2 separate regions of the Homo sapiens genome follow, and region 1 is linked to region 2. The links come from fine-mapping of genetic effects on gene expression. A gene starts in region 2. The other region holds a variant in brackets. All regions are shown on one strand. Distances are between the middles of the regions. Region 1 overlaps PFAS (phosphoribosylformylglycinamidine synthase). Region 2 holds the start of BORCS6 (BLOC-1 related complex subunit 6).

What was found. PIP is the estimated chance that this variant, and not a neighbour inherited with it, causes the effect.
Region 1: its variant is the best candidate, but not a certain one, in a credible set for the expression of BORCS6 in whole blood (INTERVAL, PIP 0.58).

Annotation. Positions count from the first base shown.
Region 1 is chr17:8,253,075-8,257,456 of GRCh38, reverse strand. It overlaps PFAS (phosphoribosylformylglycinamidine synthase), which reads right to left. Exons shown (of 28, transcript NM_012393.3): 2 at 3,378-3,598; 3 at 3,156-3,291; 4 at 2,325-2,430; 5 at 1,766-1,955; 6 at 1,547-1,652; 7 at 1,050-1,190; 8 at 809-933; 9 at 494-622. The coding sequence starts at 3,519. Among named protein-coding and RNA genes, the nearest start is that of PFAS, 6.0 kb to the right of the region's middle. The variant T/C (reference allele first, on the strand shown) is at 2,502.
Region 2 is chr17:8,188,310-8,192,691 of GRCh38, reverse strand. It overlaps BORCS6 (BLOC-1 related complex subunit 6), which reads left to right and starts at 2,512. Exons shown (of 1, transcript NM_017622.3): 1 at 2,512-4,347. The coding sequence starts at 2,552. The coding sequence ends at 3,625. It overlaps LOC124903913 (a long non-coding RNA gene), which reads left to right. Exons shown (of 2, transcript XR_007065604.1): 2 at 192-1,417. RefSeq lists enhancers at 136-235, 2,053-2,698, 2,441-2,720, 2,699-3,345 and silencers at 2,831-2,880, 3,081-3,140, 3,211-3,260.

The DNA.
Region 1 (4,382 bases), 65 kb before region 2:
AGCCTCCTGAGTAGCTGGGACTATAGGCGCCCGCCACCACGCCCAGCTAATTTTTTGTATTTTTAGTAGAGACGGGGTTTCACCGTGTTAGCCAGGATGGTTTTGATCTCCTGACCTTGTGATCCGCCCACCTCAGCCTCCCAAAGTGCTGGGATTACAGGCGTGAGCCACCACGCCCAGCCAAGTTTCTCAGGCTAAGAAACCAGATTTGAGGGGCAGGTACTGATCATAAGACCAACCCAATATCATGCTTTCTGGCTGAATGAAGGCTAGTTTTTAAAGAAAATCGTAGACCTGCAAAAGCAGTCTGGCCACCTCATCTCCCCAGGTCTACACTTATGACCATAGTTAGTGAAAGGCCAGCTATCCTAGAGCCCTTCCTCCTGAGAAAAGGCACACAGGATAACCCTATGGACCTAACAGATAGAAGTTTGCTGCCTGCCAGGACAAGGAATCTGGAAGGGAAGGTGGATAGAGAGGAAGGAGATGGAACCTGGAATATGCAGATTTCCAAAGCAATAGCCGGCAGTGCCAGCCACCACGTGGGCCCCGCGGCCTGTGCACTGGACATCTCGAATCCGGCCCCCTGTGCCAGTGGTTGCACCACTAAAGGGGCATACTCCTGCAAAGAGAGAGTGGGGAGAGGTCTGGGTGCCTCAGAGACAAACCCCCATCTCTGACCACCCCCACTGAAAATAAGGACAACCAATTTCCCTGATTATTTTCCCCAGGCCCACTCCAGGGGCCTGGGACCTTTGCCCTACCCTATTCTGTGATCTCACCTATTTCTCCAGGGAACCCAGCTCACCTGTGGGAAAGTTGTGAGTCTCTGCTGTGAAGACAACATGTCTCAGCCCTTGCTGTTGCTGGAAGCGGCTTGGCCGTGTGGGGTCCTCAGGCCGTAGGAATCGGACTTCCTTTCCCTGGATTGCACTGTGGACATACCCGTCATGGACCTTGCTTCCTTTCTGGGACCTACACTAACCCAACCAGGGCCTGGGGCCTCCCCTCCCCGGGTCCTGACGCCAACCCAGTCTAGGGCACAGCACCTGCTGTTATCACAGAATTTGAGGACGTTGTTGGGGTTCGAGGATTCCTGGGTGCTCATGATGGACTCAAACAGTGAGTGCACCAGCTTCTGCCCATCCACGTGGAGCTGGCCCTTGAAGAACCAGTGTCGGCTGTGCTCGCTGCAGGGGGCGATGCAGGGAGGGGAAGGCAGGTGGAAACGGGGTCATTTCTTAATGCCATGTCTTCTCACCAGCATTTAACAGCAGAGTTACAGCCAAATTCATACTTAGATGACAGATCAAAATATATTCCAAAAAGTCATAATCTTCAAGTATTCTGTCATTTTGGACTATCCAGAGCCAAAGTGAAGATAAAACCAAGATTTGAATGTAGACTCCTTGATGGATGACGGGAGCCCAGGCCCTCAGAGACTCAGGGAGGCCCCTAAGCCAAGGGAGGAACATGAAGGTGAGCCCCTGTGGTCTCTCCCAACACCCATGGGCTCAGGTATGGGAACAACCCCATTTCTCCTCACCTATTGGACTGCGCCAAGTCAAAGGCCTCCACAGTGCTCGGGTTCCGCTGTAGCTCCTGGAAGCGCTTGGTGTAGAAGTCTAGGTCCCAAGAGTCTAAAGCCAGACCTAGGAGACAAATCCAGGAAGAGGTGACTATGGAACTCAGGCAGCCACATTCCAGATCTCAGCACCCCTACTGGCCTATCCTGGACCCTACATCTCCCTCCCCAGCTACTCACCAAGCTCCTGGTTGGCCTTCTCCAGCGCAAGCCGGCCCTCACCCAGTATATTGATAGGGCCATTGAGGGGTTCCGGCATGCTCTCAGGGGAGAAACTCTGGATGGGATGGGGGAAGTGCTGCTCTGTCATCCGGTCGTGCAGGGTAGCCAGAGCAATGGCTTCCACCTCAGCTGACGGGGGGTGGGCAAACTAGGGGTGCAGACACACAGAGGGCAAGGGGTGAAGAGTTTAAGAATGGAGAGAAATGGTCCACCTTCCTACCCTCTTAGTCATGCAAGGCTAGCCCACTGCCACACCATATGGCACTTTTTCTCAGATTACAAAAAGACGCCCTTTCCAGGTATGAATCCATGCCAGGATGCACAAATTAAAGGAAGCATAGGCTGGATTTCTGCCCCATTTACCCCTCAACCAGGTACTTTCAGGCAGTGAACAACTTGTACGACCATACAGAGCAGGCCTAAAGCCAGGAGCACCTGTCCCTGCTTCTCTCTAGAGCTTAGGATCTAATCTTGTATCTCTGGCTCATCTCCTCCTCCTGATTCCCCATCACCTCACCGAGAGCCGGTAGCGCCGGGTGGTCTCCACACGATCCACAGGCCCCAGCCCAGTGGCGCGGCACACTGACACGATGTTGGTGGATGTTGGGGTGGAGAAGTTCAGCCTGAACAATGGGCCTGATGGTTAGGACTGGAGAACCCCCGGCAGGCCTCAGCTGGGAGGGTGGATCCTGCC[T/C]ACTGCTGTCTGGACAACCTCCCACCGCTATCCCCTCACCATTGGCTTTCAGCCTCAGGCTGGGCAACAAGAAACCTGCTTTTAAAGTACACTCAAACCAAACCAAAACTGTCCTCTAGCATCAAAACTATTTGATTTTTTTTTCTTTCTGTGAGGCAGAGTCTTGCTCTGTTGCCCAGGCTAGAGTGCAGTGGCGTGATCTCGGTTCACTGCAACCTCTGCCTCCCGGGTTCACACCATTCTCCTGCCTCAGCCTGCCTAGTAGCTGGGACTACAGGCGCCCGCCACCACACCCGGCTAATTTTTTGTATTTTTAGTAGAGACGAGGCTTCACCGTGTTAGCCAGGATGGTCTCAATCTCCTGATCTCGTGATCTGCCCCACCTCGGCCTCCCAAAGTGCTGGGATTACAGGCGTGAGCCACCGCGCCTGGCCAAAACTGTTTGATTTTAACTTGGAATCTAATTTATTTTGCTTTGAGAACATGTTTTGGAGCAGGCTAGGTCTTTGGAGGGATCTACCCAAATGGGGAAAGCACATGTGTGGTTTCCTAGGCAGGAAGTAGCAAAGAGCAAAGGAAAAGCAAATCTCCCAAGGATCACAAGAGGAAGCAAAGGAAAGCAGAAGAAAGGGGTGGGCAGGATGAGATACTTACCTGGGCCCGACCTCCAGCAGCAGGTCATTGGAGCCAGGAAGGAGCCAGGACTCCCGAGCAACATCATCCAGCAGTAAGGGGCAACCAAACAGCCACATCAGCTTCTTTGTCTCCTCAGCACTGGGGAGGGCCTCAGCTGCAGGGAGACAGGGCAAGGACACCTTGAGACACTGCCCCCAGCACCGAGGCATGTCCCCCAAGAATCTAATACCTGGGCCCAACCTGTCCAGTTCACGTTGTAGCACAGTTCAGTCTCGACGCCCTGCAGCTCTGGCAGTTTCCCTTGCAGTTTCCTCCGAGTGTGTCCAGGGGCTGCCCCCTCATGGCCAGAGGGACGAACATAGAAGTGAAGGACTGGGGACATCTCTGCAGGTGTCCTTTGCTGGAGAGAGGTGTCCTTTGCTGGAGAGATGTGTCCTTTGCTGGAGAGATGAATTAGGTTCCTAAAAAATAACATTAACTAAGCCGGGCGTGGTGGCTCACATCTGTAACCCCAGCACTTTGGGAGACTGAGGCAGGTGGATTGCCTGAGGTCAGGAGTTGGAGATCAGCCCGGCCAACATAGTGAAACCCTGTCTCTACTAAAAATATAAAATTAGCTGGGTGTGGTGGCGGGCGCCTGTAATCACAGTTACTAGGGAGGCTGAGGCAGGAGAACTGCTTGAACCCGGGAGGCAGAGGTTGCAGTGAGCCGAGATCGCGCCATTGCACTCCAGCCTGGGCAACAAGAGCAAAACTCCGTCTCAATAAATAAATAAAATAAAAATAACATTAACTATGGCCTATCTGTTGAACTGATTTCAGATTTCAAGGAAAATTGCGGCGTTATGGATAGGGTAGGGGAAAGTAATATGGACATTTAGAGAAACAAGGTAACCTGAAAAATGTAACCTTGGAGATTTTAAGGAATCTTGCAAAATGTGGTCTTTATTAATGTGGTAGGGAGGTGTACAGGCACACACCTGACACGTGTTCCTGGAGTACATGCACTTTGCTGGGCCCCAGTCAAGGTCTTAGAAACACCGCTGTGAATCAAGACAGAAACTCTGTCTGCTCTCACAGGGTTTATATTTTATTGGGGGAGAAAGGCCAAGTACCCAGACATTTCCAGTCCCGTGTGGTGAAGGTCAGGGGACTGTGGACACCAATCCTGCACTTCAGGTGTCAGGAAAAATTTCCTGAGAGAAATGGTATCAGCCATGGATTGAATGTTTGTGTATCTCCCCC
Region 2 (4,382 bases):
CCGTAGGAAGAAACAAGGTTTTGCGGGGGAGGTGGTGCGATAGGGGTGGGGCAAGGAACCAAATCACAGGAAGGATAAAGGTGGGGCTATCTTCAGGCTGGCACAGGAATTCAAACGCTCTCAGAACTCATGCCTCTTCATCTTTTGTCTCTGGTTCTCTTCCTTATCAGCCTCATTCTTTCCTTCTACAGACAGCGATCTCCTGGACATGAAAGATGGACAAGCTGATACCCAGCTTGAGCTCTCAAGAGAACAGAAAGGCGTCTCACACTCTCCACAAAGCTAGAAACAAACAACACTGTGGAGGATTTTTACTGGTCATACATTGGGTCATGTGCCCTTCCCTGAGCCAATCTGCAGTCAGAAGGATGAAGTACTCTAATTGGCCAGTTTTGGGTCACGTGCCTGTTCCTGGCTGTCATTGCACCAACACATCAGGGAATGGGGAGTTGAGGAGTGAGGAGCTTCCCCTACACAGAGAGACGGTGGGTAGCCCATTTGTCCGCTAAAACCTTCAAGATACATCTAGAATGCATCCATCCACATCGTGCTAGGCTGAGCTACTATCACCTGGTACTTGGAACCGCCTCCTCACTGGTCTACCGTCTCCCTTGCAAACATTTTCTACAACAGCCAGTAATCCCTAAACATGAATCCCATCACATCACTCTCTTCCTGTGCTCAGCTTCCCATTCTCAAGGGAAGTCCTCCCATCTTCTAAAGAATATCTACCTACCCAGCCCAATTATATATGAGCTTTTTAGGTTTTTTTTTTTAGAGCAAAGGAATGACAGGTTTTGTCAAGCTGCAGGTGACTATAAGATACAGACAGCTGACAATTGTGGACTCCTCAGGCGTGGTGAAAGATTGAGCTACTATCATTAGGGTTGGCTGGCTAGGACCCCGGCAGGCACCTGGGGATAGTAGTGCTGGGAAGTTCTGGGGAGTTGCACTTCTGAATGCTGGCATGACACTGCCTCAAGACATCTCTCTATCCAAATGGAAAAAACAACCACATCCTTTGTCAGCTAAGGAGAGTTAGCAAACTGTTTTTATTAAATACTGATGTCTGGCCGGGCACGGTGGCTCACGCCTGTCATGCTAGCACTTTGGGAGGCCGAGGCGGGTGGATCACTTGAGGCCAGTAGTTCAAGACCAGCCTGGCCAACATGGTGAAACCCCATCTCTACTAAAAATACAAAATTAGCCGGGCGTGGTGGCGGGCGCTTGTAATCCCAGCTACCCGGGAGACTGAGTTAGGAGAATCGCGTGAACCCAGGAGGCGGAGGTTGCAGTGAGCCGAGATCGCGCCACTGCACTCCAGCCTGGGTGACGGAGTGGGACTCTGTCTCTAAATACATAAATAAATAAATAAATAAATAAATAAATAAATAAATAAAAATACTGATGTCTCCAAGCTTTGGCTATGTGTTGCAATGTACAACCTTTCCAATGTCGCTGCACCATTGCATTTAGAGGAAATCTCCATTCCCTAACAGGAACTACAAGGCCCCCTGCATGACGTGGCCCCTGCTGCCTGTTCAGCTCCTTGGCTCGAAATCCTTCCCCTTATCTTGCTGATTTTGTTTTAGTCCCAATGTCTCCTGCCCCCTCACCTCAGTTTCTTGAATACGTCAAGACTTCTTTGTCTCTGAGAGGTAGCTCAAGTTTTCTTCTCTCTGCCTGGGGGGTGGCTGCGTCTTTTTGGTTCTTTTTAGTTAAAAGTCTCACCAAAGAGGTATTTTCCTGACCCCTTACCTAAACTAGTGCCTGCTCAGTTATATTCTCAATCATAACACTTTATTTCCTGTATAGCACATATCAAAATTTGTGATCATTTCATTTGTTGAATATTTTACCTCGTGGCAAAATCACACGCCATCCTCCAAGGGGCGAGACCCCTCAGTGTGAAAGGGGCAAGAGACACAGAACAAGAGTGACAAACGCATAGGAAAGCCCAGAGGCCGCTGCCTTGACCACAGTGGGTCGCTCTGAGCAGTTCAGTGGTTAGGTCTCTTAACCAAGAAAGATAGAGCAAACCATTCATGCTCATGCTGGACTTCTGGTTTCCTTCTTTTTAGTCAACTAGGTTCAACCCTGATGGTCCAAGAAGGATATGCCATTTTCATCCTAAGAACCTCTCTAGGAACCCCAAGTGGGCTCCCCACTTGGTATTTTTGCTAAGCAATCACTGTTGGGGGGGGTACAATTACAGGCAGAAAGGATCTGAGCCCCACCCCTCGGGACTCAGGAATTTGAGGACCTTGGTCTTTAAGATCTGCCCCATCAGCTTTCAGAAAGGGCGGGGCGACGGGAGCAGCTGTCACCTCCTTCTCTCCACCCTGCCGGCGTTCACGTGTGTTCCGCTGTGCAGTAACAGCTCTTCTTCCGGGACTTCCTGGTCGCCGCGACCAATCAAAATGCTTTTCCTGTCCTTACCATTGTCAGCCGCTGCCAATCGGCTCGCCTCTACCAACGCCCCTTAAAGGCGCAGCCACTGCCTCCGGAGCCGGGGCGAACCAATTCCTCCGTTGCGGCCCCCACCTGCAGTATGGAGTCGTCTCGGGGGCGGCCCGGGCCCGAGACGGACCTTCTGGCTGTAGCGGAACATCAGGCCCTAGTCTTTGGCGGCGGGCCGGGCCGAACGTCCTCTGAGCCGCCCGCAGGCCTCCGGGTGTCCGGGGAGGAAGAGACCGAGAACGTTGGGGGCGCGAACCGCCACCCCAGGACGTCCCCGAAGACGTCAAGCTGCGGCGTCGTCCACCGGCCGGAACGGGAGGCTCTGGAGAACGAGCCCGGCCCTCAAGGGACGCTGTCTGGGGCCGGGAGCCGCAGGGGGGCGCCGGGTGCAGAGCACGAACCTTCCCTGTCCTCCCGGCACAAGAACCCGGCGCCGCCCGAGGGCAAGCCCTCCTCCGGGAGGGACTGCCGTCGAGGGGGACCAGGCGGCGGGATGGATGTTGAGCAGCAGGAGGAGGAAGACAACGACGAGGAGGCGGCCGCGGGCAGCAGAGCCGGCCGCTCGTTCTCCAGCCGTCTTCAGGACAGCCGCAGCCTGGACGGGCTGAGCGAGGCGTGCGGTGGCGCCGGGTCCTCAGGGAGTGCCGAGTCCGGCGCGGGCGGCGGACGCCGCGCCACCATCTCCAGTCCCCTGGAGCTCGAAGGCACAGTGAGCCGCCACGGCGACCTTACCCACTTTGTCGCCAACAACCTGCAACTCAAGATCCGTCTGAGCGGCGCGCCTCCACCCCCGCCTTCTGCCCCTGCGCGGCCCTGCCCAGCGCCTGCACCCACACCCACACCGGCCATTCCCCCAATCGACCCCGAGGTGCTGCGGGATCTGGAGCGGTTGAGTCGGGAGCTGGGAGGCCGGGTGGACCGTCTGCTTCGCGGTCTGGGTGGCGCGGTGCAGGAGCTGACGGCGCTGAGCGTGGGTTGCATCCAGACCTACCGCGATGCTGTGGACTCCTTAGGTGAAGCCGTGGACATGAGCATCAAGGGCATGTACACCCTGCTGGCGCGCTGCGAGGAGCTGGAGCGGGCTCTGCAGCCGGTTCAGGGGCTGGCGCGCCAAGTCCGGGATATCCGACGTACTCTGGAGGTGTTGGAGGCCCTGTGCAAGTGACCAGGAGGACAGGAGAGGCCGGTCCTGGCCAGGGCAGGGCCCAGCAGGACCCTAAGGACTCTTCAGGGAGTCCTGGTGGGAAGTGCCCACTGAGGGGAGGCCTGTGTGTTGGAGGCTCTTCCAGATGCGTTCAGCTGGCCCGTGCCCACTCGCTGGGCCTTAGGCTGGTGTATGTGGGGAAGTTCTAACGGCTCTCCTGGTGGGAAGGGATGTTGCTCTGCTTGTATTCAGTTGGCCATCTGTAGCTACCCTGTTCTTCCCAACTCTCCTCCCTAGCTAGAGCACCAGCCCTGGGAACACGGGGCTTTAGGTCTGCTTGAAGGTGAGGACGTGACTCCCACATGTAATCAGGAGAAAGGGACAGAGGAAGCCCCAGCCCCCACTGTGGCTATCCTGACTCCAGTGGCCACATCTCAGGTGCCAGGGGCTGTGGGAGCTTGTGCCGTCCTTGGCCAAACACCCCGCAGGCAAAGATGCACCCCTGCTGATGGAGAGCCTTCTGCTTCTGCCCTCTGGCCCTCTACCATACCACTTCCCCAGCCAGAACCGGCGTGCAGCTAGGAGGAATGGGTTGCACGGCGGAGGGGGTGAGGTGGGAGGCGTCTCACTGCTCTCAGGGTTCAGGTAGAATGTTGCTGGTTTTGAAGCTCACCTGTTGTGGAGTGTTCTAATCAGTTTTGGCTTTCTGAGTTTTTGTGGAATTAAAGTGCTGCTGCTGCGAAGGCTGAGGCTGAGTCTGTGTGGGGTTGCAGTGATT